6 separate regions of the Homo sapiens genome follow, and all the other regions are reported to be linked to region 1. Evidence: microRNA targets listed by miRTarBase, many of them from high-throughput screens and not tested one by one. Region 1 holds a microRNA gene; each other region holds the end of a gene's coding sequence. Distances are between the middles of the regions.

The links. Region 1 holds the annotated microRNA hsa-miR-4455 (AGGGUGUGUGUGUUUUU, at 2,617-2,633, opposite strand). A microRNA usually pairs through its seed, bases 2 to 8, with sites in the 3' UTR of a target mRNA and lowers its output. Matches are read on the target gene's strand: a 7mer-m8 pairs with bases 2 to 8, a 7mer-A1 pairs with bases 2 to 7 and ends in A, and an 8mer does both.
Region 2: miRTarBase lists DIPK1C as a target of hsa-miR-4455. The part of its 3' UTR that is shown has no 7-base or 8-base seed match.
Region 3: miRTarBase lists LRRC10 as a target of hsa-miR-4455. Seed matches in the 3' UTR shown: 8mer at 1,831-1,838.
Region 4: miRTarBase lists CD40LG as a target of hsa-miR-4455. The part of its 3' UTR that is shown has no 7-base or 8-base seed match.
Region 5: miRTarBase lists PLAC8 as a target of hsa-miR-4455. The part of its 3' UTR that is shown has no 7-base or 8-base seed match.
Region 6: miRTarBase lists EFHC2 as a target of hsa-miR-4455. The part of its 3' UTR that is shown has no 7-base or 8-base seed match.

What each region holds. Positions count from the first base shown.
Region 1 is chr4:184,935,805-184,941,147 of GRCh38, forward strand. MIR4455 (microRNA 4455) reads right to left here and starts at 2,636; the gene lies at 2,579-2,636. RefSeq lists a silencer at 4,831-5,125.
Region 2 is chr18:74,432,638-74,437,980 of GRCh38, reverse strand. It overlaps DIPK1C (divergent protein kinase domain 1C), which reads left to right. Exons shown (of 4, transcript NM_001044369.3): 4 at 1,262-3,206. The coding sequence ends at 1,480. Among named protein-coding and RNA genes, the nearest start is that of DIPK1C, 22 kb to the left of the region's middle.
Region 3 is chr12:69,605,585-69,610,927 of GRCh38, reverse strand. It overlaps LRRC10 (leucine rich repeat containing 10), which reads left to right and starts at 21. Exons shown (of 1, transcript NM_201550.4): 1 at 21-2,364. The coding sequence starts at 90. The coding sequence ends at 923.
Region 4 is chrX:136,658,908-136,664,117 of GRCh38, forward strand. CD40LG (CD40 ligand) reads left to right here. Exons shown (of 5, transcript NM_000074.3): 5 at 132-1,483. The coding sequence ends at 508. Among named protein-coding and RNA genes, the nearest start is that of CD40LG, 13 kb to the left of the region's middle.
Region 5 is chr4:83,089,849-83,094,840 of GRCh38, forward strand. It overlaps PLAC8 (placenta associated 8), which reads right to left. Exons shown (of 5, transcript NM_016619.3): 4 at 4,830-4,943; 5 at 200-1,123. The coding sequence ends at 4,839. Among named protein-coding and RNA genes, the nearest start is that of PLAC8, 22 kb to the right of the region's middle.
Region 6 is chrX:44,144,019-44,149,002 of GRCh38, forward strand. EFHC2 (EF-hand domain containing 2) reads right to left here. Exons shown (of 15, transcript NM_025184.4): 15 at 3,854-4,878. The coding sequence ends at 4,777. Among named protein-coding and RNA genes, the nearest start is that of NDP, 170 kb to the left of the region's middle.

The DNA of each region.
Region 1 (5,343 bases):
TAGCCATTGGAGGAAACTGGCTGAAGGGTACAAGGGACCACTTGGTATTGTCTTTGCAGCTTCCTCTGACTCTATAATTACCTCAAAATTAAAAGCTTATATATATGATAATAAAGTTATATATCATGTATATGTTACATATACATATAAGCACACACAAACATGCATGTATATACACACATGCATTCATAAACATATTGTTGTAGGAGTTACTAAGAAATTATTTTAGGCAGATAGAGAGGAGAAGGGGTCCTTGGGAAGTTTTCATTTCTTTTAAAGCACCTCCAAAAACGTTTCTTGTCTAGCAGAAAAGCTCCGGCTCTTAGAGCTGAGCTGGCAACCTTTAGTATGCAAACGCCAGCCATTAGAAACTGGATCCACCCAACATGGCGATTCCCATCATTGTCCTCTTGCCCTTGCCCCACACGTTCCTGGCAACATGGCTGCCCCCACATATCCCCAAGTATGTAGAACATCATGGCACCCTGCATTTGCATATTAAAAGACTAGGGTGGGAGGGTCAGTTTTTTTCGAGGGCTACATGAATGACTTACCTGGTCAAACCAATCCCCTGAGCCCTGTGCAAATCAAACACCATCTCCTCCAGCCTCTTCATATAGCTGGCTGGTATCCTGGCATGTGGGGTCTCCTCTTTCAGCTTTGGAGCCCCCCTCCCTCTGTCTCTGTATGGAGGAGCTTCTTCCTTCTGACTTCTCCCATCTTTCTTGCCTATTAAACTCTCTGCTCCTTAAAATCACACCAGGTGTGTCCGTGTCGTTTTTTCCAATTCAACTCGAGAGGAAGAACCTGGTATTCCTCCATTCATCAGAGCTGTATCAATATGATACGATAATATGGGTGAATCTCAAATATATTATGCTAAGTGAAAGAAGCTAGGCACAAGAGGCTACATCCCAAATTACTTCATTTATATGACACTCTGGAAAAGGTCGGACTAGGGACAGAGGATGGATCAGTGGTTCCCAGGGATTCCAGGTGGGGCAGCACGAGGGTGTATAGGATGATAGAGCTGTCCTGTATCCTCTCTGTGGTGGTAATTACTTGAATCTATGTATGTGTTAAAACTTGAAGAACTGTGCACCAAAAAGAGTGAATTTTACTATACATACATTTAAAAGTAAACTTTAAAAAGTGGCTTGTCAGCAATGCACAGAACAGCTCATTTCTATTGCAACAAACTATTGTGATTACTTTTGTATAAGTTACACATTTGGTCTTCACAATTTGAACCCCAATTGTGACACTATGCAAAGGGGGAAAAGTTCCCTGAGATTGTGTGATCAGTAAAAGATTATATTTACATTTAAATATCTTCAGTGTTTTTGACTTTAGCAAGACAAATGAGAATCTTTGATGGTGTTTGGTTTGTTGACCAGCCAGTTCAAATTACAGCTGGGTGGTTACCAAAGCTGGACAGATTACAGTATGGAATTAAAGTCTGAACAGAGTATGGGAATGCTAGCTTGAAACAAAAATAGAGTTTTGGGGAAAAAGAGCTTGGGAATTAATTGCATTCCTTGAATTCATTCCTTGGAAGTGTTTCATGCTGGCTCCCACAGTGGCTCAGGTGTACATGCTTTGTTTAGTAGTTGATCCTTTGAGCCATAGGAATTTTGGAATGTAATATGTTTGTTCTCCACCCACCCCGTGCCCATGAATCTCTTTTAGTAGGTTGATTTATTCACTCTTTAACTTCTATTGCACCTGAGTATACCAACAGTAGGATTAGGCTAGAAAGTATGCAGTCATAAGCTGAAATCAACAGGGACAAGTGATTAACAGGTGGACAGTGTTGAGCTTGCCAGGTCACCACTCTCATGGTCAATATTTTCTTTGTGCTATTTTTGGCTTGGTTCCACATCAGAGAGTTCAAACTCTGAAGTTGTAAAGATACTGCTTTTAAGAAAAATCAGCTCATGTCTGGACCTTGATTTAATCGTTTATTCATCTTTTTATAGTACTCTCTGTTCCCAAGATAAGCTACTTTATAAGGCAAAATTTCCACCTCGGCATCATTTCATATAAACATTTAATGCTGAAACTCCAGGTTACATCTGGCGTCTAATGATGAACGCAGACAGATGCTCCTATCCAGCCATGCCCTCTGCCACTCCGCGGGGTGCTGCTTTCCATTTCCTCTCTGTGTCTGTCAGCACCAGGGCCGAGCTTTTCTTCCGGGATAGATGCTGAGCTGACTCTGCACTCAAAGCGCTTCAAATGATGCTGATTGAAATCAGATGCTATAAAATGTTCATCACTTAGTTTCATTTATTAGTTTAGAGTGGCGTGCTATGCAAGCTTTTTGCTGTTTATTTATATTTTTACTTTAACTTTTATTAAAGTAATACAAGCATGAATTTTATAGAGCCAAACAATTCTACAATGTTCATTAACACAAATAGTAGTTGCTCCTTGCCTCTTCTCCAGAAACACCACTTTCAATTATCTTAGCTAATGCTATTGTCAGTAACCTCTACATCTCTAAATAAAATGCTTATATTGCTTTCCTTGATTTTTCAGCTTTATGCATTCATCTATTGGCTTATCCCTTTGCAAATGAAGAATTTGGCTGTCCTTCCTTCTCTTATTCTCAGGAAAAACACACACACCCTTCTCATCTGCTTATCTTTCTAATCTGGTTATATCATAATTTTTGTTAGCTCTTTGTTGAGCATTTATATGATTACAACCATGAAAATACTAAACTAAGCCATGCATCAAACTATAATGACTTTTCCTATCCTAGCCACTCTTTGCTTCCCTGGATTAAAATTTTATTATTATTATTGATGCTTATCACTAATTCAAACACAAACTCACTTAATTATACAAACATCCTCTTAAGACAGTCAGAGCATCACATATCTTATCAATCCAATCTTCACAAAATCTCTCCCAGATTCTCCAACATACTTCAGTCTAGATCGGCAGTCCCCAACCTTTTTGGCACCAGGGACCGGTTTCATGGAAGACAATTTTTCCACAGACAATGGGGGATGGTTTTGGAATGAAACTGGTCCACCCTAGATCATCAGGCATTAGATTCTCATAGGAGCATGCAACCTAGACCACTCGCATGTGCAGTTCAGAGTAGGGTTCATGCCCCTGTGAGAATCTAATGCCACCAGTGATTCGACAGGAGGCTGAGCTCGGGCAGTAATGCTCACTCACCTGTCATCTATCTCCTGCTGTGTGGCCCGGTTCCTAACAGGCCACCGACCAGTACCAGTCCACAGCCCAGGAGTTGGGGACCCCTAGTCTAGACCGTTCTCAACAACTGGGGCCAAACTGTCAACCTGGGACTTCTCCATCTTCCTGGGAATTCCCTTCACTTCTCTCATGTTGGATCTCCTGTTTCCTGTACGTCTTCTTTCCTGATTTACTCCTTTATCTTGGTGAAGCATATCTTTTAGCAACTTCCTACTATGAAGGAATAAAGGTGCATAGGAAATACAATATCTGGAACATTGCCTTTCTAAGATGTCTTTATTCAATCCTCATACTCAATTGATTTTTTTTTTTTTTTTTTTTGAGATAGAGTCTCGCCGTGTCGCCCAGGCTGGAGTGCAATGGCGTGATCTTGGCTTACTACAACCTCCGCCGCCCAGGTTCAAGTGATTCTTGTGCCTCAGCCTCCCAAGTAGCTGGTACTACAGGCGCCCGCCACCAAGCCCGGCTAATTTGTTTGTATTTTTAGTAGAGACAGGGTTTCACCATGTTGGTCAGGCTGGTCTCGAACTCCTGACGTCAGGTGATCCGCCCACATTGGCCTCCCAAAGTGCTAGGATTACAGGTGTAAGCTAACACACCCAGCCCTTAATTGATATTTTGACTATGTATAGAATTCTGGCTGGGTGGGGTGGCTCACACCTGTAATCCCAGCACTTTGGGAGGCCGAGGTGGGCAGATCACGAGGTCAGGAGATCGAGACCATCCTGGCTAACTCGGTGAAACCCCGTCTCTACTAAAAATACAAAAAATTAGCCGGGCGTGGTGGCAGGCGCCTGTGGCCCAACTACTTGGGAGGCTGAGGCAAGAGAATGGCGTGAACCCAGGAGGCGGAGCTTGCAGTGAGCCGAGATCTCACCACTGCACTCCAGCCTGGGCAACAGAGCGAGACTCTGTCTCAACAAACAAACAAACAACAAAAAAAAAGAATTCTAAGATAGTAGTTATTTTTCTTCAAATGTTTGAAGGCCTTGCTGTCTTGTCTTCTAGCCTCTGCCATTACTGTTGAGAAGCCTGATGACATTCTGATTTGATCCTTTGTATCCTTTAATCTTCTCAGATCCTTTCTTTATCCCAGCAGTTCTAAAGTTTCCCAGTGACATGCCTTGATTTATGTCTGTTTTTATCTACCATGCGTCAGTCTAAAAGCTTACATCATTCTTGTCTGGGAAACTGTTCAAATTACTTACCAAAATATTAACGAATGATTTTTTCCTTTCCATTTTTTTCTGTTCTCTTTTTCTGAATCTCCTATTATTTAGATATTGGACCTCCTGGACTAGTCTTCTAATTTTTTAATTTGTTCTTTTTTTTTTTTTTTTTTTGCTCTACTTTTTGGGAGAGTTCTTCAATTTTATCTTTCAATTTATTAAGTAAGCTTTAAACATTTTCTAGAATGGTTCTAAATGTTTAAAGCTCCTCGTTCTTCAAAAGTCTCATTTTTGTGTCATTCTATTGCTGTTCCAAGGGTGAAATATCTCTTCGTGTCTCTTGAGCTAGTACTGGTAAGTTTTTAAAAGAGCTGCTCTGTTTTGTCCACATTGTTTTTTACATTGGTTTGTCTTGGTCTGGATCTTTCACTTAGAATTTTCCTCACGTGGCTCGAATCCATGATCACGTGCTCATAAGAGCAAGAGGAAACTGAGTATGTGGGTCGTTAACAGTGAACTTCACCCTGGGCTGAGCTGGCCGAACTGTTTCACGGGAAACTCATAATCAGTATCTGTAAGATCTTCTTGGGCTGGTCAGATCCCCACAGGACTTTTTTTAGTCTCTTGCCTGGAGGATAATTGCCTGGCTAGGTTGACAGCATTCTGAGCTAAGGAAGACGGAGAGGACTGCAGGTCTCAGAATCCAGTGAGAATCTACTTACCTAGTCTCCCTATTTCTGGGATAGCACCCACTTCCACCTATGCCTACTGTCCCCTAGTCAGAAGACCTGTATTTTCTCTACAGAGAATAAATATCTAATAGTCTGTGAGTAGGGGGAGGGGCAACTGTCTGACTGCACAAATTGGATGAGGTGATGTGGAGGTGAAATTGCCTCTTGTTTTTGAGACAGGGTCTCTCTCTGTCTCCCAGGCTGGAGTAGGG
Region 2 (5,343 bases), not on the chromosome of region 1:
AGTCAAAGTTGCAGTGAGCCAAGATGGCACCACTGCACTCCAGCCTGGGTCACAGAGTGAGACCTTGTCTCAAAAAGAAAAAGAAATCAATTTGGAGGGATCTCCCTCATATAAATGGGGGTGGAAATTTGAGAACAGTGTGTACAATATATTACCTGTGTGTAAAATGAAAGGAAAAGGAAGTGTGTATGTCAAAGAATGTCTCATTCTCAGAGCGGGAGCTGAGCATCGGGGTGAGGTGGAGCCTGAGATCACGGTCTAGCCTTAAGAACATTTTAAATTTTGCACATGAAAATGTATTCTCTATTTTAAAAAAACCATAATTAGGTTTTGAAAAGAATCCTTGCTTTTGCAGGGATTGTGAAATGGAAGTTGAAGGTTTTTGTCCTCTATGAAGCAGTAGCTCTTTACAATGGAGGCATTTGTTAATTGAGTCTGATATAAAGTGTGATGTAGAGAAATAAAGCATGATGCATCACGCAGCTCGCAGGTCATTTCTCCCAGCGTGGGGGAAGCTGTAGGAGCTATAAAACAAACAACATGTTTACAGGGAGAAATTTCTAGTGATCCTCAGCATCACTGAATTTCATACCCGATTAGAATTAAAGAGAGTGTCTAATTTTTACCTCTGCTCCTAGAATAACACATTTCACAGAGCCTTCAAAGAGCCTTATGCCTGCAGTCTTTTCTGTCAAATATGCCTTTGTTTCATGAGCCTTAAAGTGCTATACAGGCAGCCATACAAGTTCACACACTTCTCCCTCACGCACCATTTGGCCCTCTGGACAGCCCGGTCAGATGGTCATTGTTGTCACTAGGACCAGCTTGTGGATAAGAAACCTCATCTCCAGGTGGTAACAGCAAAGCCGGCCTCCCTCAGGCCTGCAAAGGACCAACTCCTTCTGCAGCAGTGACTGTCTGTGACTTCTGCTTCCCTTCCTCCCTAGAAATGTGTCCAGTCCTTTTACAGTGTCACCCAGAACTTTGTCCATCTGCTAGGGGGCTGGAAAGGGAAGTTTCTGCCTCACACAGATGTTGGCTTCTCCTCTCGGAGGCGTCTTTTGTTCATGGTGCTGAAGGGTTTAAGGGGCAGAAGTGAAGGCATGTTTCCAAATCGGATGGTCTCTGGAGTGTGCTCCCTGAAGGACGGGGGTGGGGGTGGGAGAGAAGCTGAAATCTGTTTCAGAACCAATCCTGGGCTTGGGAAGCTTTTAGGAGGATTTGCTGCCCTAAATTAACTGTCCACCCTTCTTTCCCTCAGGTCATCTGTGACAAAATATTTCGCCATTGGTTTTCCGCGCCTCTCAAGAGCTCTGCGGTCTCTTTCCAGCTTCAGCTGCAGTTACAGGAGGCGGTGCAGGAATGTGCAGACCCTGGGGTCCCCAGTGGGAACACCCGGAGAGCAGCCTCCAGCGTGTTCTGGAAGCTTCGCCAACTCCTCCAAGCCACACTGAGGGAGCTGCAGGAGGCAGAGAAGTAGCCACTCTCTGGCCTTAAACATGCTCACACAGGAAAAGTGACCTTGGCTGGATTTCTTCTGCCATTGTTTTAAAGATGAGCCATTTCCCCTGTGCTCTCTGGGGTGCCGTTCTGGTCTCCACATTGTGGAGTGGCAAGTGCTGCTGCCAGAGACAGTGCTCCCTCGCTCTCGTCCCACCCTGGCCTCTGACCTGTCGCCTTGTGTAAAATGAGATGAGGGAGGAGGTACAGACCTCCCTTCAGGAGGGCTCTCGGTCAGAAGACACCAACCTGTGTGCACTTATTCTCTGCAGAGAGCACTTGTACCTGGTTATCCCAGCACGAGTTCCAGCTGTTCTTTCCTGTAAATCGTTACCACGTTAAAAAGTGTGCGTGTGTGCATACAAATGATGTGTATGCCTGTGTCTGGGTGCAAATGAGCATGTGAGCATGTGTGAGTGTGCCCATGAGTGTCTGCATGTGTGTGAGTGTGCACAGGTGAGTGTGCACAGGTGAGTGTGGTGTGCTCATGAGGAGTATGAGTATGCCTGAGTGTGAATATGTATGAGTGTGAATGAGTGTGTGCACATGAGTGCACGGGTGTCAGCATGTGTATATAAGTGTGGGCATGTGTATGTGATTGTGTGAGTGTGGGCAGGTGAGTGTGTTGGGGATGTGGGTTAGGGTGGGGAGTGGTGCTTTCTCTAGTGTGTCCTCCGGAACATCTTGCCTACCTAGCAAAGAAGTGTGACCATTCTTTCGGAATTAAATACAATAAAAAGAAAATAAGCTGCATCTTTAGGGAAGGGAATTTGCATTGGAGAGCGTGTGTAACGGCAGCTTATAGTATTTTTCATTTTGTGGAATCCACCAAGGTTATGGATGGGTTTTAGGGCGCCTCGTATTGCAATACACCTTCCCCTGGGCAGGGACTTGTAGGTTGGCTTGATGCAGCATTGTCTTCACCTTCAGAGAAAATTTAAAGTAGAGCAAATGCTGAGGTCTGCATTGACTCCAGGCAGGACCAGAGACCAGCACCTTTCTTTTGATGGATTGAAGACCAAGTGATAGGCATCAAATCCTATGGTGGCATGATACGCTCATCAGTGGTGATCCCAAGGAGGCTTTTCCAGCAAAATACAGGCAGGGGGACAGGCCAGGTGAAGCCAGTGAGCTTTCACTTAAAGGGACCTGGTTTCTACCCATAACTGTGACCCACGAGTGCTCAACAAACCAACGGGTCACCCCTTTTCAGAAATCCCATGAAAAGGGAAATCGAGAAAGATGAGAGAATCAGGAAGTCATGTTGGCAGTTTACACATTAAAGAAGACAAATTAATCGGACGTTGTGAAAGTCACAAACTGACACATTCCAAATGGTCTCTTATCTTGGCCTGCAGCCCCTTTCTAAACCAGAGAAACGGGAATGCCTTCTTCCAGACTTTGGGGTCACATTTACTGACTCTGCCCTTCAGGGCACGCTGAGAAATGGTGTGTGAGGGACTAGCATGATCAGAGGCCCCCAGCTCTAAATTCTGCCTTCCCCAAAGACCTGTTGGAAGGCCCACTGCCAGCTGTTATTCTTACCCATCACCACTGGGGATCTTCCAAATGACACAGAGTTCCATAGAGGGCCTCCTCATCATGGACATGAAGACTCGCTTTGCAATTGTATTCTAGCAAGAAGGAAAAAACCCATGTCAGTCACCCTGTGGCACGAGCAAATTAAAACCAAAGTTCAACGGCCAGGCCTAGGACTAGTGGATTCCAAAGGAAAGGGCGGGCTTCGGGCTATTGGGTGGAGGCTCCGATTTTCCCCAGAGCTGCGCTGGGTGCAATGCCTTTCTGTGGTGGTCGGGGCATACTTTGGGCCATGCTCACCTTCTAGGCAGGTTCTCTACAAGCAAAAAGGTTTACAGGAAGACGGGTGTGAGATGGAGGGGGGGAAGGAGGGAAGCCACCAGGGCTTTGCCCTCTGTGCCCTTTAAACAGTGGGGTTTCGCTCTGGGAGGTCAGAGTGGGTCTTTTGTGGGTAGACGCTGGGATGCCAGCCATTCATTAGTGGCCTGAGCTCACTGACCAGGCAGCAAAGCCAGCCTGGAAAAGAGAAATAGTTAGTTTTCATTTCAACCAAAATGGAAACAAATTGTTTTTGTTTACGATGGAGACTGTGCAATATATAATTATCCAACACAATTGTGGTTTTATTGCTGAAAGGGAGCTGTTTTATCTCTTCCCTTTATGTTTGGCTACACAGTTACACACACACACACACACACACACACCCTTTTCCATCCCTGCCTGGGAATTCCCATTAGAGCAGTGGCTCTCAAATTGTGGTGAAGCTCAGTTTTGTTTTTAATTTTGAAACCTTGCAAATCAATGCTTTTATATAACATAATAAATTAACACTGTGTATATCAATATTTAGTATTTTGAATATGACAAATCGGTTTTTTTCTGGCTGATCTAATTGAGCAACAACCGCACTCGTAGAGGAAAATGTCTCCCTAAATGATTTCTATGTTTTGTTGTAATAACACATAGTAGACAGAACACTCTCAGAGACATGTTGATGGGATCTGAAAAAGATTATAAAGTAAACTCATCAAGCTCAGGCTATTCCTCTTTAAGTTGTATCCAAATTAAAGCAAATGGTGCTTTATTCATGTCCAGTCCTTCATCAGGATTCCATTGCCACAGTTTACCTTGACAAATTGTAGTTAAAACTTCATTTGATGAAAAGAAAGAATTCCATAATTGTATACTCCATTGGCTTACAGCTGACAAACCTTAATACACGTGGGTTGTATAGAAATCGTAGGTGGCTCAGGAGACAAGTTCGTGGATACCTAGACTGGTCAATGAGTCAGTTGGCCAATGTCAACTGGCAATGTCACATAACATCACAAACGTTTACAAACACTGCCAATATTGCTAAACCCTCCTCTCAATTCTCATCTCACATGAGACAAATTAAAGCTAACAGTTCAGAGACATGCTGCCTCCTAGAAGTCCACCAGGCTTAGCCTCCCATGCATCCTGCCCCATACTAAGGCCCAGCCTGCTCAGCCCTTCCAGAGTACCTATGATGAACATCCAGGACATTACCTTAAATTACTGGAAGAATAACTCTTTTAAATCTTGATTTGGAAGCTATTCTTTGAACAGCAGTAAGTGGAGGAGTTGGGTTGGAGATTTCTAAAACCAATGACCGCATAAAGATACTCTCGCATTCACCACGCTAGCCCCTGTGGTTGGCAAACAAATGCCACTCTGGCTCTAACATCTATTGGTTCAGTCAGAAAAAAGAAATGCGCCCACCCGGCTCACATTCATGGGCTGCTCCTCCTTAAAACCACCCTTTTACTTCTGTACCTTAAAAAAAAAAAAAGCTATCTGTGTTACAGCTGAAGCTGATGGAGCTGATTATTGATTTTCATTTAAAAACTTACCTCTCAGAGTCCCTTCCTTATCTTCTGAAATGGGCATAATCACCTCGATCACAGCCTATTGTGAGGATTTAAGGAGATGATGAGTACCAAGCCCTTGGCACAGTGTCTGCTGCAGAAACAAGCACAGGAGTGTTCCTCGGTAGCAGTGGACAAATGCCAATGAGAAGGACTCCAGGTAGGGGACCAGCGTCTGAATCCCACTACACCTGCACTGTCTCAAGAAGACCCAGTGGGTTTTAGCTTTGCATGACATTGCACCTGGAGCCACTCTCTGTGGATGCTGGTCTTGGCTAAACGGTTCATCCGGGTTTTCCTTATTGACTTAAAGCAGCGGTCTCCAACCCTTTTGGCATCAGAGACTGGTTTCATGGAAGACAATTTTTCCACAGATGGAGTAGCGGGGGTGGATTCGGGATGATTATTGTGTACT
Region 3 (5,343 bases), not on the chromosome of region 1:
GAGGGTAGGATAGGCCCCAGAGCAGTCAGCTGAGCCAGCCCCGCTCAGTGAGTCTGTCCTCTGGGGCTCGCCATGCCCCCAGCCTCCGCATGGGGAACACCATCAGGGCCCTCGTGGCCTTCATCCCTGCTGACCGTTGCCAGAACTATGTGGTCAGGGACCTCCGTGAGATGCCGCTGGACAAGATGGTGGATCTGAGTGGGAGCCAGTTACGCCGCTTCCCCCTGCACGTGTGCTCCTTCAGGGAGCTGGTCAAGCTCTACCTGAGCGACAACCACCTCAATAGCCTGCCTCCGGAGCTGGGGCAGCTACAGAACCTGCAGATTCTGGCCTTGGATTTCAACAACTTCAAGGCTCTGCCCCAGGTGGTGTGCACCTTGAAACAGCTCTGCATCCTCTACCTGGGCAACAACAAACTCTGCGACCTCCCCAGTGAGCTGAGCCTGCTCCAGAACCTCAGGACCCTGTGGATCGAGGCCAACTGCCTCACCCAGCTGCCGGATGTGGTCTGTGAGCTGAGTCTCCTTAAGACTCTGCATGCCGGCTCCAACGCCCTGCGTTTGCTGCCAGGCCAGCTCCGGCGCCTCCAGGAGCTGAGGACCATCTGGCTCTCGGGCAACCGGCTAACTGACTTTCCCACTGTGCTGCTTCACATGCCCTTCCTGGAGGTGATTGATGTGGACTGGAACAGCATCCGTTACTTCCCCAGCCTGGCGCACCTGTCAAGTCTGAAGCTGGTCATCTATGACCACAATCCTTGCAGGAACGCACCCAAGGTGGCCAAAGGTGTGCGCCGTGTGGGGAGATGGGCAGAGGAGACGCCAGAGCCCGACCCTAGAAAAGCCAGGCGCTATGCGTTGGTCAGAGAGGAAAGCCAGGAGCTACAGGCACCAGTCCCTCTACTTCCTCCTACCAACTCCTGAGGAGCTTCAGTTGCAAGTCAATGCCAAGGACCCAACTGCAGCATGTTCTGGAAGCCTCTCCATTGGAGTGGAAAGGATGGCTCTGGGTCATTTGGGAGTGGCTCTGCTAGTAGAGACTGATGGAGAGAGCCAGGTGGAATGCCATAAATCACACTGAGAAAATATTTCTGGCAAACAGCTCCTCTTCCAGAGGGGAGTTGTGTGCCAATGATGGCATGACAATCCAGAGATCATAACTTCTTTGCAAGAAAACAGCTTCTCCACACATGTATTTTGAAACACTGAAGAGCAAAAGGGGCTGGGACACTCTGAACTCCTGCACTCTCCAGAAGTGACTGGTCATGAAGCTCATGAGCTCCTCAAATAAGGTATTTGCCATAGAACTAAATATTCTGGTGGTCTGTCTCTTTGCAGGACATATTTTCTTTACTGTAAATGACCATAAACAGTATCAATGTATCACTGAGGCCACCGAAAAGGACATTTCTACCTAGGCAATCAGTCAGATTCACAGAAAAAAGTTGTTTGTTGTTGTAAAGGCTCAAGATGAAACTCTTTCCCCAGCAGTTTAGTGCCTGCTGAAAAGATCCCTGATGGACAATACTTCTTGGTGGACTCCAGCTGCCCCTTTTATTATTATTAGAGACAAGGTCTCACTCTGTTGCTAGGCTGGAGTGCAGTGGCACAATCATGGCTCACTGCAGCCCCGAACTACTGGGCTCAAGCCTTCCTCCCGCCTCAGCCTGCCCAGTAACTGGTACTACAGATGTGCACACCTGGCTAAGTCTTTAATTTTTTCGTAGAGATGAGGTCTTGCTATGTTGCCCAAGCTAGTTTCAAACTCCTGGGCTCAAGCGATGCTCCTGCTTCAGCCTCCCAAAGTGCTGGGGTTACAGGCATGAGCCACCACACCCAGCCTTCAGCTGTCACCTTAAACTTGACAGTGGCTCATGCTGATTTAGTTCATTTTCCCTAAAAGGTTTGTCCCAAGATCTGCTCCCAACAGTTGACTGTCACTGACAATGTTGGAAGTCATCTGGAAAAGAGAACCTCTGTGGTAATGTGGTCTCATTAAAGTCAAGCCTTGTTGTGATTCCTGTCTACCTCCCTGAAGCAAAGCCCTTCTGTTTATTCACACTAATGAGCCAGAGCTGAGCTAAATTGAATCCCTGTCCTTGGAGGAAAACCACATTTCCAGAAGCATGTTAGTTTAAAGGTAGTAGGTGAGAAATGTGTTCTCTTGAAACAAGCACTTTGAAATTTGAATAGGAAGTTGTAGTGTATATAGGAAGTCTCTGCCTCTTTCGCCTAGTATCTCTGCCTTTGTTTCAATTTGTTTTGATTTTTACAGACTGTTTTGACAATGTATAAACCAAGGTATTTTGTTTTTTGGAAGTATGTAAATTGTGACCTTCCCACAAATATATAAACTTTAAAGAAATTGTTGTCAGTGGGTAATTTAATAATACAATTCTTTATGTACTTGAACGTTTTCAGCAAACAAGGACACAAAAAGTGTTATCTTAACTAAAACATACAGTACCAAGTTTTTAAAAGGATGTTTTCTGTAAAAGCATCTTAACCCAACAAAGTTTGGTTCTAAAATGACATTACACAGCAGACCTATTTTCATGTATGTCTTCCTACCAGAAATATTTCCTGCTAAACTAGAGGAAGGATGATGTTGCATAATTCCTTCCTATCGTCACCTCCCATCTGCAGAGCATTTGCAACCCATTGATCAGACTGCCAAAAAAGGTCCCTTTAATCATTTAATGTAATAGGTTTAAACTTTCAGGTCAAACATATTTAACTCCTTTAGAAACAAGTCCATATTTCTGTTGGACAGTTAGGATTTATCTCATTCCTAATGACGGAAGCCAAATTATACTCAGCTGATGCTAGAAACTTTTGTCAACAGAACTTGCATTCTAAGCTTAATCTATAGCAAGGTTTATAGATTTCTGACTTTCTTTTGACCCTGTCTTACCCTTCCCAAGATTAATCGGCCATTCTGTAGTTGCAGACTATAACCATAAAACAGAGTGAAGCCAATTGATCCATACAGAACTGTCATCTAAAGAGCTAACTGGTCTGAATCAGTAGTCAAATTATAAACATTTTGGCCCATAATCAAGCTGTTTTCTTCTAAAACAGTCAATACACAAAGAACATTTCTCAAATGGTATGGTCAAGTGTTCGCTGTTGAATTTGCTTTCCAAAAATGTTTTCACTGTAGATTTTCAATCAATTTTTTTTTTTTTTTTTTGAGACAGAATCTTGCCGTGTCGCCCAGGCCGGAGTGCAGTGGCGCTATCTCGGCTCACTGCAAGCTCCGCCTCCCGGGTTCACGCCATTCTCCTGCCTCAGCCTCCCTCAGCCTCCCAAGTAGCTGGGACTACAGGCGCCCGCCACCACGCCCAGCTAATTTTTTGTATTTTTAGTAGAGACAGGGTTTCACTGTGTTAGCCAGGATGGTCTCGTCCTGACCTCGTGATCTGCCCACCTCGGCCTCCCAAAGTGCTGGGATTACAGGTGTGAGCCACCGCAACCGGCCTTCAATCAATTTTATAAAGTATATAAATGCATACTTACATTTCTATAACCCTTCTAATAGTTTCTGGAAATGTTGACACAATTAGAAAGTAAAATAAGAAAATGTTGAAGCACCAAATGTAACTTTTTTGCTCCTGATTTTTAAGTCTTGAAACTCAAAGTGTTAATGCATCAAAGGGAAAATGTCTTCCAGAAGTTTACATAGGATTTTAGATTCCATAAATAAGAGTGATGCCAACTGAAATCTTTAACATGGAATCAATTGAAATGAATCAGCAACCAAGTTTGCTTCTTTATTTTGTCCTAAAATGCATCATCTCTAGAGTTTGTAATTTTCACTTAAAAGTGGGTTTGTGCCCTAATAATCAACTGAACTCAAACTAAAGGCACATATCCAACACAGTGAACCAGAAGCAATGTAGCATAGCGGCTAAGAGCATGGCCCTTCAGACTACCTGGGTTCAAATCCTAGGCTTGCCACGTACTAGTCAGTTATCATCTATGTGCCTCAGTTGCTCATCAGTAAAATCATAACAGTTTCTGCAGAGCACTGTAAGGATTAAACCCATTACTGTGTATAAAATGCATAGAACAGTGCCTGGCATGTGACAGTGAAGGTTTATATAAAATGTTCTTTTACTAAGTACTACACCATGCAGCACAACACCTATATTTACCCTAAAAGCAAGTGTAATTCCTTGATTTTTTTTTAAAGTGGCATCCCATGATTTGAAGGAGAAAAAAAACAGTGGCAATAGAACAAAAAAGCTGTTTTCTCTTCAGAAAATTTTCAACCATAATATCTAAAAGTCCTGAATGTAAGAAATATAACCACAATTTGGTCAAATGCTCCTGGCTTACCAAAATAGGAAAACACACAGACATGATTACCAAGGATGCATTTGCAAATTTCTAAATGAATATACTTTCATCCTTATCTATTATTCTAGAATTAATCACCAAAGTACTTGAAAACACGGGACTATTCCTTGGCATGAAATCCGTTTCTTAAGGGGCAGGAGGCATGTGACTGAAGACGTCGGTCCTGTTAGATAATTTTACTCTGCCTTTTGCCTGTTTTTTTTTTTTTTTAAGCATACTATTTGTCATCTCCGTACCATAGAAAGGATACTACTACTATTTGAAAACAACAAGGTATGCATGCCTTTCTTTCCTTGTGGACCGTCCACTTCTGGCAAATACTAAGCAGGACTTATCATTGAATCATCAGTGCCTTGTACAGTTAGTTCCACCACACTTCTTGAAGATGGGAGATTTTATCATGTACCCAGCCCATGGGACAGGAGGAAAGGCTGACACGTGGAACGCTGCTAGAGGCCAGGTACTTTCCTCAGGTTCTAAAGTTAATTCATGTAATCTTTTCAATACTCCTTTGAAAAGAGCTATTATATACTGCTCACAATTTTAAAATCACAAATTTGAAATCAGGGTTATCTTTAGTCTTCATATTGAGAATCTGAAAAGTTCTATAGTAATTCTGATTTTTTCTTTTTTTTTTTTTTGAGATGGAGTCTTGCTCTGTCACCCAGGCTGGAGTGCAGTGGCGTGATCTCAGCTCACTGCAAGCCCCACCTCCCGGGTTCACGCCATTCTCCTGCCTCAGCCTCCCGAGTAGCTGGGACTACAGGCGCCCCTCCCGGGTTCACGCCATTCTCCTGCCTCAGCCTCCCGAGTAGCTGGGACTACAGGTGCCCGCCACCACACCTGGCTAATTTTTTGTATTTTTTAGTAGAGACAGGGTTTCACCATGTTAGCCAGGATGGTCTCGATCTCCTGACCTCGTGATCCACCTGCCTCGGCCTGCCAAAGTGCTGGGATTACAGGCGTGAGCCACCGCGCCCGG
Region 4 (5,210 bases), not on the chromosome of region 1:
AGCCCATGGAAGGGGCCTTGAGAATCCATCCCTATACAAAGCCAATATCCAACATTAAACTATATTTTTTGTCAGAATGTGAACCATGCTCTGCTTCACCTCACCACAAACTTTCCCTTTCTTTGTAACAGTGTTACAGTGGGCTGAAAAAGGATACTACACCATGAGCAACAACTTGGTAACCCTGGAAAATGGGAAACAGCTGACCGTTAAAAGACAAGGACTCTATTATATCTATGCCCAAGTCACCTTCTGTTCCAATCGGGAAGCTTCGAGTCAAGCTCCATTTATAGCCAGCCTCTGCCTAAAGTCCCCCGGTAGATTCGAGAGAATCTTACTCAGAGCTGCAAATACCCACAGTTCCGCCAAACCTTGCGGGCAACAATCCATTCACTTGGGAGGAGTATTTGAATTGCAACCAGGTGCTTCGGTGTTTGTCAATGTGACTGATCCAAGCCAAGTGAGCCATGGCACTGGCTTCACGTCCTTTGGCTTACTCAAACTCTGAACAGTGTCACCTTGCAGGCTGTGGTGGAGCTGACGCTGGGAGTCTTCATAATACAGCACAGCGGTTAAGCCCACCCCCTGTTAACTGCCTATTTATAACCCTAGGATCCTCCTTATGGAGAACTATTTATTATACACTCCAAGGCATGTAGAACTGTAATAAGTGAATTACAGGTCACATGAAACCAAAACGGGCCCTGCTCCATAAGAGCTTATATATCTGAAGCAGCAACCCCACTGATGCAGACATCCAGAGAGTCCTATGAAAAGACAAGGCCATTATGCACAGGTTGAATTCTGAGTAAACAGCAGATAACTTGCCAAGTTCAGTTTTGTTTCTTTGCGTGCAGTGTCTTTCCATGGATAATGCATTTGATTTATCAGTGAAGATGCAGAAGGGAAATGGGGAGCCTCAGCTCACATTCAGTTATGGTTGACTCTGGGTTCCTATGGCCTTGTTGGAGGGGGCCAGGCTCTAGAACGTCTAACACAGTGGAGAACCGAAACCCCCCCCCCCCCCCCGCCACCCTCTCGGACAGTTATTCATTCTCTTTCAATCTCTCTCTCTCCATCTCTCTCTTTCAGTCTCTCTCTCTCAACCTCTTTCTTCCAATCTCTCTTTCTCAATCTCTCTGTTTCCCTTTGTCAGTCTCTTCCCTCCCCCAGTCTCTCTTCTCAATCCCCCTTTCTAACACACACACACACACACACACACACACACACACACACACACACACACACACAGAGTCAGGCCGTTGCTAGTCAGTTCTCTTCTTTCCACCCTGTCCCTATCTCTACCACTATAGATGAGGGTGAGGAGTAGGGAGTGCAGCCCTGAGCCTGCCCACTCCTCATTACGAAATGACTGTATTTAAAGGAAATCTATTGTATCTACCTGCAGTCTCCATTGTTTCCAGAGTGAACTTGTAATTATCTTGTTATTTATTTTTTGAATAATAAAGACCTCTTAACATTATCGTTGTTGTTTGAGTACCTAAAGCTCCCAGCCAGGTTGGGGAAAGAGGAAGCATTTGGAGGGAATTTTCCCAACCTTTGTGATGTTTTCATAAACTTTGTTCTCAAGCTACTTACATTATAAAATATCTTGGTGGCAGCACACTTTCTGGAAGTCTGTGACAGCCTTTGATCGATGATGTGCTAGCCTATTCAGTGAAAAGCAATCTAGGTCTTTATTTCCAGCTTCTTCTGAAAAAGTTGCAGGAGATTGAAAGAACTTTTTTTTATTAATCACAGCCAAGTGAGGCTGGAGAGGGTCCTTAAATAAGGAGCAGTGGCATAGCTTATTAATAGCTGTCTAGGTGGTTCCACTTAGGCAAGAGGAAATGGAGCTGAGAAAACCTGAGGGGAAGTATTGGCCCCCCAGTCTTCCACTGAAGTCAATGGAGCCATTTCTTGTCACCTCCAACAGAGGAATTTTTCATGTAAGAAACCCAGAGTGGTGTGTTCATCTTTACCGGGTAAGTCCTACATGCTCACTGTTGGTTATCTCCCTGGGCTCATGGTTTTAACTTAGCAGCATCTTCAAGCCACTAATGCCATGCCTTTTGTTCTCAACTGTCTCCTAGAATTTGCCTGCATCTCCAAAGGGTGGGCCTAGTTCCTCAAACCCAGTACATTCCAACCGAACTCTTAACTTTTCCCCCCACACAATGGGATCTGTGTTCAATGTTTCCCAGTCCAATGAATGGTGTCTTTATCTACCCAGTTTTTCAAGTCAGAAACCTGGCTTGACTTCACTCTCATCACCCCCATGTTCAATCCCTCCAGCCTATGCTCATCAACCCTATCTCTTAAGTAGTCCTTAATCTACTTCTTTCTATCTCTACTATTTCTATCCTAGTCCCAACTGTCACCATCTCTCTTCTGGAATAGTACAACAGCCTCCTAGATTCCCTGCCTCCACTCTTGCTCCCTTCCATCAATTCTCCATGCACAGCCAGTCCCCTGCTTCTTATGAACCTTGGAATAAAGACCAAAATAATCAATTTCATCTCCTGCTGCCACCTCTCTCGGTCTCTTAAGTTCTAGCCCTCAGTTCCTCTAAGCAAGGTTACAAATGCTTTCCTACCTTAGGGCCCTGGAATGCTGTTTTCTCTTCTTGCAAGACCCATTTCTCTCCCTCACTGCACCCTGCACTTAGCAAGTGCTTCACAGCACTTATCATGGTTGAAGTTTTCCCTACTATGCTGTGAGCTTCTTGAGGACCAAGACCTTGTCCCATTCACCATGATAACTTCAGCGTCTACCACAGGACCTAGCATTGAATTGGCCCTTTATTTGGTGCATGAAGGAATAAATGAATGAATAAATACAGCTGCTTATAACTCAATAGCCCAGAAAATAATTCTGTGTGTTGGCTGAGGCAAAAATTTGCTACACTGAAAGGATCCTCATTAGGTCAAAAATATCTGGATGATAAAAATGCACTCATGGAGTAAAAAATGACTGAGAATTATGCTGTAGCTAAAAACAGATAATATGTTTTTATTATACATTTCATGATAATTTGCAAAATAATATATGTTTGTTCCAAACTTCAATTGAACATTTTCAGCATTTTCCTATAAATGAAAAAGACTCGAGTACATTTCTGATGTACCTGTAATAGTCTGATCATAAATTATCTAACTTAGTTCCATTTTTATAATCATGTCACTTCTGCCTTCTATCTAAGGGGGAGGGTGGGAATGTTTGAAATACCAAATAATTATTTCTAGATAAAGAGAAAATAAACAAGGATAAAATATTACTGCCTCTGTTATTTGATGGTTAGCAAATGACCACAAAACGCAAACAGTGTGCTCTAGCAAGCTGTCAGAACAGGGGTGCCCCCACTTAAACGGAAATGACATGTAAACTTTTGGGCTTCAGGAGAGAATACATTCTGTGCTACATTCAACTATTTTCACAGGGCCCAATGCCACTGTGTTGGGAACTGCACTGCTTTAGACTTTTAAAGTAGTCTGAAGTACTTTGAGACACAGAAACATGGAACTAAGTATGATTTTTATGTTATTTTTCTCTGTGAATCACATCCCCACTAAAACAAAACAAAACCAGAAATGCTCATTGTAGTGTAGTAGTTAAATCTCGAGTCAGACAGATACAGTCTTAATCTAGGCTCCACTATTAACCAGCTTTATAAGTACAGGCAAGTCATTTCACCTCCTCTAGTCCTCTGTGTCTTCATCTGTAAAGTGGGAATAAAAAGAAGACATGCTGGGCCAGGCATGGTGGCTCACGCCTGTAATCCCAGCAGTTTGGGAGGCTGAGGCAGGTGGATCACTTGAGGTCAGGAGTTCGAGACTAGCCTGGCCAACACAGCAAAACGCTGTCTCTACTAAAAACACAAAAATTAGCCCAGCATGGTGGTGTGTGCCTGTAATCTCAGCTACGTGGGAGGCTAAGGCAGCAGAATCACTTGTACCCAGGAGGGGGAGGTTGCAGTAAGCCAAGATGGTGCCTGTGCACTCCAGCCTGGGCGACAGAAGCAAGACTGCATCTCAAAAAAAAAAAAAAAAAGTTTATAAAGATTCAGTGAGATTGTCCACAGAAAGTCCCCAGCAGAATCTGCTCTCTGGAGAAGATCATCATGTAAGAAGCACTAAGGTGGGTCTCTACATGGTCCCCAGCACACCTGTCTGCATTCAGTGGTGCAAGTGGACAGGGTGCCATCTTAAATGGTTGAAACTTCTGAGACCAAGGAGAATGCCTGGCAACCCAGGTACACATGAGAGCCTATGCTCATGTACTAGACCAAAGACCACACCCAATGTGAAGCAAAGTGAAACCAAAAAAAAGAAAGAAAGAAAAAGCAAACATTACAGTAGACCTGTGGATAGCAAAGACCCTTTTTTTATGGTATAGTTTTATTGTCAAAAACTGCTAAGCGCTGGGGGCTTGGAGTTGCCAAATTTTTCAGTAGGTTTGAGAAGATTACATATATATATATTATATATATATATTATATATATTATATATATATTATATATATTATATATATATATTATATATATTATATATTATATATATATATTATATATGTTATATATATATATATATATATTTAGATGGAGTCTTACTCTGTTGCCAGGCTGGACTGGAGTGCAATGGCATGATCTCGGCTCACTGCAACCTCTGCCTCCCAGGTTCAAGCGATTCCCCTGCCTCAGCCTCCCGAGTAGCTGGGGCTGCAGGTGCATGCCACCACGCCCAGTTAATTTTTTTTTTTTTTTGTATTTTAGGAGAGATGGGGTTTCACCATGTTGGCCAGAATGGCCTCGATCTCCTGACCTTGTAATCCGCCCGCCTCAGCCTCCCAAAGTGCTGGGATTACAGGCATGAGCCACCGAGCCCAGCCGAAGTTCTATATTTAGGAATGTTTCTTTAAAAGACGATGACCATTGATTCCCAGTCTAAGGGGCATCAGCACACAAACCTCCCCCTTCCATACCACACTTTCACACTCCTCTGAGTCATTCTTCAAGCAATTCAGTAACTTTCAGGAAACTGCCCCACTCCTGCAGTTCCACTGAGTTATCTATAAGGTAGCTGCATCCATGGGTCTGGAGATCAGGAGAAAAGTCAGAATGGAAAACTGTGGACATGGGAGTCATCTGCATTTTGATAAATGAAGTTATGGGGGTAGTCAAGGTTGTCTAGGAATAGGCTATAGATTGGAA
Region 5 (4,992 bases), 100 Mb from region 1:
ATCTCATATTCAAAAGGGAAAGAAAATCAACAACACAATAAACAACCTCCTGAGGAATGCAGTGTAAAAGCAAGGCTTGGTGTGTTGTTTCGCAAAAAATCTTGCTTTGTCAGCATTAATACTAACAGATAACATGAGAAGAGGCAAAAGTGTTGGCTAAATGTACCATAACTGCCTGGGAATAGTTATCTGTAGTCTATTTTTTTTTTTTCTCATCTAAAGTTCTTAGATGAAAGAGAGCTGGGTTACTGTGAACCAAAATCTCCTGCTAAGAAACCAAAGTATGGTGCAGTGGCTCACACCTGTAATTCCAGCACCTTGGGAGGCTGAGATGAGAGGCTTGCTAGAGGCCCGGAGTTCAAGACCAGCCTGGGCAACATAGAAAGACCCCCAACTCTAGGCTGGACGCGGTGGCTCATGCCTGTAATCCCAGCATTTTGTGATGCCGAGGCAGGTGGATCACGAGGTCAGGAGTTCGAGACCAGCCTGACCAAGATGGTGAAACCCCGTCTCTACTAAAAATACAAAAATTAGCTGGGCATGGTGGCGGGAACCTGTAATCCCAGCTACTCGGGAGACTGAGGCAGCAGAATCGCTTGTATCCAGGAGGTGGAGGTTGCAGTGAGCTGAGATCACGCCACTGCACTCCAGCCTGGGCAACAGAGCGAGACTCTATCTCAAAAAAAAAAAAAAAAAAAGAAAGAAAGATCCCCCAACTCTATTAAAAAAAAAAAAAAAGAAAAAGGAAATCAAAGTATAAGAACAAAATTATGAGACTGACCCTTGGAACTAACTAGTGAAAAAGACATTTTAAGGAGAGCAAAGAAGCATGAAGAATCTTATCAGTAAAATATTTCATTTGGTTTATATTTCAAATGTAATTTAAAAAGTTTATAAGCCAGGAAATTCGAATTCGATAATATGAAAGCAAGGAGAAACTAAGTTGCACCATTTAGCTAAGTTCAGGGACAACATTCATTTATAATAAATCAAAAATTTGATTTTTTTCATGCCATCAGTTGTACTTAAGCATATCCATCATATTTCAGTTGCAAAAGATGGTGAAGAACTCAAGCTGAAGAGGTGTCTGCTGAATTTTGTTGCTTCGGTAAGAGCTTTTCACCTATAAAGGACACACAAGAGTTTTGAATTTTCTTAAGGTACTTTTATAATTTTTAATAAACTTTTAATTGCAGAATCATTTTTGATTGACGGAAAAGTTGCAAAGATAGTACAGCGAGCTCTCATGTATCTGGCACCCAATTTTCCTGTTGGTTAACATCTTACATTACCATGGGAGGTTTGTCAAAACTAATGAACCCATACTGATGCATTACTACTAATCAAAGCCCATACTACCTTCAGATTACTCAGTTTTTACCTACTTTAATTTTCTGTTCCAGCATCTCATCCAGCATACCACATTACATTTAATTGTCATCTTCTCTTAGGCTCCTCTAAACTGTGACTGTTTCTCAGCCTTTCCTTGTTTTTGATGACCCTGACAGTTTTCAGGAGGAGTAGTCAGGTATTTTGTGGAATGTGCCTCAGTTTAGGTTTGTCTGATGTTTTTCTCATGGTTAGACTGGAGTTAAGAGGTTTTGGGGAGAAGACCACAAAGGTAAAGTGCCATTCTCATCACATCAAATCAGGGGTGCAAACTATCAATATGACTTATTACCAATGATGGTGACGTTGATTACCTGGCTCAGGTCATTGTGTCAGGTTTCTCCATTGTGGAGTTACTCCATACAGTATAGAGAGTGCACTTGCATGCTGTACTTTTCATGCTGTACTTTTTGGAAGGAAGTCACTATGCAAACCCCCACTTCAGGGTGGGGAATCATGCCGCTCTCCTTGAGGAAGGAGTATCTACCTAAATATTTGGAGTTCCATATGGGAGATGTGTCTCTTCTCCCATACAGAAATTCTCCTGCCACTTCTTTGCTCTCAAAATTCCCAGTTTTCCCTGCTTTCAACATACATACTTTTTTTCAATTTTCAAATTTTATTCAGTCATTTATGTCAGCACAAACTCATAGATATTTTATACTTTGGGTTATAATCTAACACGACCTTATTTTGTTCCTCAAAGTGCCCCAGTTTGGACTATGGGGAGCTTTTCCAGTGGATTCCTATGTCCTTCATCTCAATCTATTTTAACGTAAATCATGTTGTTATTCCTTGCTCTTTCTCTCTTGTTTAGCTCCCCATTTCGATATCTGTTTGTCTAAAGTTTTATTGCCAGTGAGTGATGTAGGGTCCAAGTTGATGAGGAGGAGTCAGGACCGCCAAGGTATTTTACTTCAAACCCACCTAAAGATTCAGTGAGATATTTTCCCTGAGGTTAAAGAAAACACTTGAGCTATCAGGACTCATTACTATGAATGTGTGGGTAGATATTTGATCCAAATTGTTTCATGTATTTATTTAAGTAAACAGTGTTGGAATGATCTAACTCCCCATCTTTGCTTCTGGCCTCATCCTGTACAATCTGTACTATATACTATTATTAGATTAATATTTATTATTTTAAAATTTTATTTATTTTTATTTTTACTTTTTAGTAGAGATGAGGTCTTGCTATGTTGCCCAGGCTGGTCGCTGGTGCTGAACTCCTGAGCTCAAGTGATCCTCCCACCTCGGTCTCCCAAAGTGTTGGGATTATAGGCATGAGCCACCATGCCCAGCCTTAGATTCATATTTCTAAAGAGTAGTTCTATTCATTTACTTCAAGCCTGCAATAATTTCCCAATTCCTACCAAGTCATTAGCTTAGTATTCAGACATCGCATGCTAAGGCCTTTAAAATCTTTTATTTTTCGTTATTTTTCTACTTATGCCATATGTTCTAGCCAAGTTGGACCTAAGCTCATAAAGATATTTTCTCTGTTTTTGCCTCTCTAGTTTCATTAATATTGCTGATTAGAAGCAACATTTCATTTCTTTTCTTTTTCTTTTCCTTTTTTTTTTTTTTTTTTTTTTTGAGACAGGGCTGGAGTGCAGTGGTGTGATCATAGCTCACTGCAGCTTCTACCTCCCAGGCTCAAGTGATCCTCCCACCTCAGCCTCCCAAGTATCTGGGACTACAGGCGTGCACCACCACACCTAGCTAATTTTTGTATTTTTTCAAGAGACAGGGTTTCAACATGTTCCCCAGGCTGGTCTTGAACTCCTGGGTTCAAGCAGTCCTCTTGCCTTGGCCTCCCAAAGTGCTGGGATCACAGGTGTGAGCCACTGCACTCAGCCTCCATTTCTATTAATTAAAACCACATCTTGAGTCAGTGATCCTCTGTTTGCCCCTATCTGATTTACTTACTCCCTTGACCATCCTGCTGTGTGCCCTGGGAAGCGACCTGCGGACTACCGTGACACTTTGCTGCCCTCTGCCTTTCTGGTGGGTTCAGCCAATGGGAAAACCAGAAGGACATCCGAAAGTGAGGTCAGGGTACTTTTTCAGTTCTATGGGTTGCCTCGGGCTGCTCACAACCCTCTCTTGAGAGGATACTGTTTCTTTCAGGGCAGGCCTCTTCACACAGCTCTCTCCTTAAGGATTCAGGTCACTGCTCCCTCTTCTCCTCCCTGGGGCTGTTGCCAGGCAGGTTATTATGCCATCCCTTGTCATCTCCCTACAATGCCCCACCCACACCTTTATAATTAGTCTTCATTAAATCTTTGAACTATCACAGTTTGAGTGCCATCTGTTTCTTGTTGAGAACTAATACGCACTTCCCCTTTAGAATTAAAAATCACTGCTTTCAAGAAACTTTCACCTATACATCTTACAAGATGTGATCTTTTCCTCCTCTGAACATAAAATACCGCTTTGTCTATAGGCATTAATTGAATTCTGCATTTTAGTTAGGGGTTTGTCTAATCCCCCTTTTTCGTATAAATTCTATAATGACAGAGGGACTAGCTTATTTATCTTGCTCCCCAACCCTACTACAATACCTAACAGTATCTTACCTAGTCTTAGATATTGATACATTGATACATTAGTTGCTAAGATAATATATACTTGATCCTAGATCCTTAATACATTACTTGCTAAGTAAATGAACATTTTTTTACGTATCTCCCAAGAGTTATTTTTATTAACCCATACAGAGTCCTTATCACTTCAGGAAGGAAACTGGATATTACAAAGAGTAGAAAAATTGTGTTCTTCCCATACTTAATATATATTCTACAGGGGATGGAGTAAGTCATGTTGATTTCTACTTAACTACATCCTCAATAGATAGTCCTGAGAAAAATTAGTTGAAAATGACTTGATTGAATTTCAGATGGTTAATTCTATATAACATTTCCAAACATTCTAAATTCTATGTTCACCTCTTTCAAAGTTCAGCTTCTCCAACAGGAGTTTTCTATTTAACCTCACCTTGCTATGATAGATGCTTTATGCCACAATCAATCCAAATATCATACAGAATGTTATTTTCTTTACTCTTCTATTTTATAATTATTTACGAATTCCTTTTGTCAACTTGTTTGTCTTAGCAGGGAACATGTTTTCTAATTCTTTTGTATCTCACCATACTCTGGTATTTTACAAGTGGTAAGTGCTTCCTTAATAGATCACCAGAATTCTGAGAAGTTTAGAAAATTCACCATTCCTTTATTTACTAAAATATGGTTTCAAAGTATAGAGCTATCTTCTTCATAAGAAGAAAATTAAAGCCAATCTTGATATTATGATAGCACTTCAGGAGACTTAAGAAATAGTTATTGCTGAATTATTCAAAACAACAAATAATTGACAAAGTCTTTAGTGATATTTCTAAAAACCCACATGTTCTGAGAGGCATGTTTGCATTGACTCACCATCAGTTTTTAGAAAGTACGCATGGCTCTCCTTCTGTTGATATCTCTCTTGATTTGGCAAAGAGTACAATGAGGACAGCAAAGAGTTGCCATATAGTCATCACAAATAGATCCCTGTTTGAAAACCAAAAAGAAATAAAAATATAAAATTCACCTATTTGGA
Region 6 (4,984 bases), not on the chromosome of region 1:
TAATCCAAACTACCCATCACTTCTCTGGCAACAGTCTCCTAATCAGTCTTCTTGCCGCCAAACACACTCTTAGAGTTCACACACACAAAGCAGCCAGAGATTTTTAAATACAGACATGATCTTTCCATTCCCCAGATTAAAATATTTCAGAAACTTCTCATTCCCTTGGGATGAAGTGCAAACTCTTCAACATGAGTCACACACAAGGTGGTCCCTATTTTTGTCCCGACTCCCCTCTAAAATGGTCATCTTTTGCCACTTCCCTTCTCACTCTCCTAGCTCCAGTCATAGTTAAAACTGGGGGTATTCGCAGGCGCCTGAAATGGCCGTTCAGCTCCTGTTCTTTATTCAACGGGTGGCCTCACAGCAATAATGACCAGTGGTAGCACAGGAGAAAAAAGCAGGCAAAAGTAATGTTATCAAGTTCCTATTTCAGTCAGAGGTTCTTGTTGTATAGGCAAAGTAGGAAAAAAGAAACACAAAGATGACTTTGGTGGAAGTATTTCTAAAGGAGAATGCATTTTTATGTTTTCACCAAGCTATCAGCTCCTCTGGATTTTAATATTATAGTGGGGTCATAACAAGCTTTCCTCTATTGTTGGCTTTACACAGATGCAAAGTGGTGCTCAGGAAGCTAGGAGACTGATGAATAGTGGGTTTGATGTATTTGAATCATTCAGCACTTTGAGTTAAATGTGCATATTCTGTTCAAAATAGACAATGGGGAGGGGCAGTCCCCCCTTTCCCTCTCTAACTTGCATAACATCAGGCCTCACTGCTTTAACTAATGAGTATTTAGAAGTAAAGGCTCCTACTGATTCCAGCGAGTCATTAATTCTCTGCTTGCAGAGCCACTGTGGAGTTTTTCATCGGCCACATTTTTTTAGCTTTTACCAAGTTGCTTCTGAGCAGCAGTGCTGACCCCGGGCTCCTGTGTGTACCACACACCAGACACATAATGGGCTTGAAAGTCCCCTTGCAAGGAATTTTACTGGGGACCAGGAACAAATTACAAAGAAGATGCATATTCTAGCCACTCTGTTGACAAAGATGTCTCAGAACTCTTAGTTTTAGGGAACTTAATTGACCTTGAATGAAAATGTATATTTAAACCAATATGTATAACCTGGTAGAATAAGCGGAGGAGGTGAGTTACAAAATTCTCTTAAACTAATTGCACAGTCAGCCCTACCCTTTGTAATAATGAATGTTTGCTCCATTATCGCTCCAGGTTTATTATTTTCTAAACAGCCTCATTGATCTTGCCTCAGTGGGCTTTCCATTTTTACACATTACATTCTCTTGGGAATTGAAAAGCACGGTGTCTCTGAAGATGCTCAGTCAACTTGAAAACACTCATTTTTGAAAAGGTCTTAACCTGCCTTCAACTTGAAGCAATTCAGACTTTGCCCAAACAAACATTAGAGCAGAGACACATCACTCGTGTATATGTTTCTACCATCACTGGGAAGCTGTTTGTCTGAAAGGTCATTTACAGACCGTTTTTTAGGGTATTGAAAATTCAGGGATCTATACTCATAACTAAAATGAATGTACATGTAATTGAGAGCATGGCACTTTATTATAATGGATTCTGCATTATTCAATATCATAAATATTTTGTGGAAGGCCCTATTTCGTTATGACTCCAACTACTAAACTTATAGCAAAATCATAATGTGTGGTGGAAGGGAAAGGAGAAAGAAGAAATAAATAGAAAAGGCTAGGAAGCAACCCCAACTCAAGATAAATTCCAGTTGGAAAGGCAAGAGTTTTGTGTTTTGTATTGATTTGAGATTTCATTTTACTCATCAATAATGCCCTATTTGAAAGAAGGAAGGGCAATTTAAATATTCTAAACTCATGACTGAGGGGTCCATAAAGCCTGGAAGCTCTATGACTCCAAATAATCAAACTTCAAATACTCTAGCGTTTAAAAAAAAAAAAATAACAAGAATAGTATATTTGTCAGTAATTGAACCAAAGGCAATACAGGAAATAAAGTAGGCAAAATGTTTAAACTATTATAATGCTTGAAAGTTACAAATCTCCCCTCTGTTGTCTAAAATTTTAACCATTTTAGTAAACTTAAGCTAAAGTAAACCAACAGACTTACCCACATTACTTTTCAAGTGGTTAGGTAAAAAAGGTAATAAAAGGCAAATAAGTACTGCAAATTAATCCTCTGCTGGCGACATCATACCTCACAACAGTGCCTCAGCAAACCACTTAATGTGAACTTCAACAGCTTTTAATCAGTTTTGTATGAAAAGACATGATTTGATTTGGGTTTTCAAATGGCTTTATCAATCATTCCCACAGTTCCAAGAATACTAAATAACAATTAGTTCTTAGGACAAAAGGTTTGCCTATATTAACCTTCAACTCACCCAGACATCCAAAGGTGGCACTTGCTTTTTCATCAAAATGAGATCATGTTAGCAGCTGAAAATATAAGTATATGGAAAGGTTGTGAAACTTCTTTCAAATTATTACCCTGGAACAATGACAATAGTTGGGATTTCTCTTTTGCAGAGGGAAGAGAAGAGGCAGAAATTCCAGTCCTCCTCCCCCCAAAATTTTAGTCTCGGGATTTATTTGTGCTGAAAGCCAGAGTTATCTACTGCTTGAAACCTAAGCAGAATGCATCAGCATTTCAGGACCACCTGGGACCAAGGGGGGCTGGGAGACTTCCAGATGGATTGTAAGACAATTCACTGATATTTACATAACGAGAATAAATGTTTTTCCTAAGATAGCATTTCCCTTCAGTGTCTTGAGACCACCAGCAAAAGAGGGAGGTACAGAAATTCTATTACATTAATAGTCTTTGTTTTTATGGCTTTGGCATTTATTAACTAGTGGGAGCTGTTTATTGGGTCATAAACTTTACTAATGGGGATATTATCTCTAAATTATAAATCTTGTCCAGTATATGGCTTAGTTATAAAAAGAATGATTATTTAAAGTGTCTGTATGGCTGCAACGTATCATGTTTATCGGCATGAATCCTATAATGGCCATTTCATTGCTAATTGTGGGCTTGAACCAGAAACAACCAGGGCAGTAACACACATCTATGCAATAGAATAAGCAGTTGTCACCCCACAACTCAGGAGCATTGTCATTGGTTTGCTTCCTTTCTTTTTCTCCCCCCACTTCTCAAATGAACTACATTATGAGCCTCTACAAGGGCTAAATTATCTACGTATTTAAACTCTTGAAGGAAAGACAACTGACTGAAGAGTTGAATAGGTAAGTGACGAATGTGTCAGCTTGAAAAGTTCCAGGAAAGTGTCATCCTTCTAAAAGCCTGCTCTCTGGGGAATGAAAAATCTTAAAGTGACAAAATGGCTTGGCACTGTCAGTTGCCTTAAAAAAAACCTGGGACAAAAATCAAGTAGTCAAATTTAGGATTTATGGTAGATAGTTTTAGTATATAAATTGAGTATACTAGTTTAGTGTTAAGTCCTGAAAGGGTTGGGAGGAGCGTCTATTCTAACAATAGCACATGTGGAATTATCCTAGGCTTACATATAGAAATCGTTTATTGATTAACTCCAATTTTTTAAAAATGAAAGGGCCATTGTTGTGGAGAATAAATTGGTACATTTGAGTGCCAAGAAGCCAGCAAGACACTGCTGCAAATGTGGAGTGAAAGAATAATGAGTCCGAAGGGTCCCTTGAGATGTCATCAGCTCTTCTTTTTCTCAGGGTAGTCCCTGAAAGGTAAATGGTGCAGCTCCTTTTTGAGACCTCCATTGTCTCCCAGAACACCAGGCAAATGGATTTATGATACATAGCATCCAACACTGAACAATGGCATAGACTGGGATAGACTTCTTACACTGAATTCCCAGAGGTACATGGCTATGGGTTTTAATCAAATGTACACTACATGACAAGAGTTCTGCTGAAGAAAAATAAAAATAGAACTAGAAAAATGCAGGGGAAAAATGTTGTAGTTTCTGAATATTTAAACCTCTAGGGTGGGGCGCGTGGGATGTGTGTGTAAAACAAACCAAAAAAAAAACAAAAATCTCAAAATCTTCAGCTTTCACATTTGTAAATATTTTAGACATAATAAAGTTTTGGTCAAACTATAATTATACACACATGCATATATTCCTAAGCTAACAAGCTGACTTTAGATAGAAAAAAGGGCATTACAAATATAAATACTGCATATGTTTCCAGTGTGTGTGCACGTGCGTGTGTGTGTGTGTGTGTGTGTGTGTTGGAGGTTCTTTTTCTTCCCATAGCTTTACTAAGTTCAAAAGATAAATATATTTACTCTAGAGAGGTTTAAGAATTATTTTGATGAGGTGGGTTGCTACAAAACTTAATTATGTAAGTAATAAACGTGTCAAAAAGGTTTCAAAAATGTTTAATAGAATCACAACTTATTGCTGTGATATAATTTGATTTTGTATTGTCATGTATAACCTTCAAAAGTCATTTTCTGTTCATATAGTAATGAATCAAATTATGTTGGATCAAAAATTATCAGAAGATTTTTTGGTATTAATAAACCATACATATAATAAAAATATTCAACATGTTTTAAGATGGCATTTTAAATAGTAACAGTACGTCGGCAATGTAACATGATGTTCTGTAAAACTAACATGACAAAATAGGATTAATTGTGGTTTATGGATTTCCATTTAATATAAACCTTGTTTCTTTTTTGTTTTTAATGAAATTATATCTACTAAAGTAAATGTGGCAAAATGAGAGAAGTAAATCATAGAGAATTGACCAAAACTGGCATGGTTATTCCTCCTCTAAGCCAAACGCGTCCTTCAAAAAGGTCCAGTAGTCAATGTATTTCGCAGGAATAGGTGATGGCATACCAAGCCAAACATCTTCACATCTCTAGAAAAAAACCAAAAATGGATATGATTAGAACCACATTTCAAAGTACAGTTTTGAAAATTCAACACCAGTTTATTTGCAAAGTGAAAATTTCTACCATCTACTT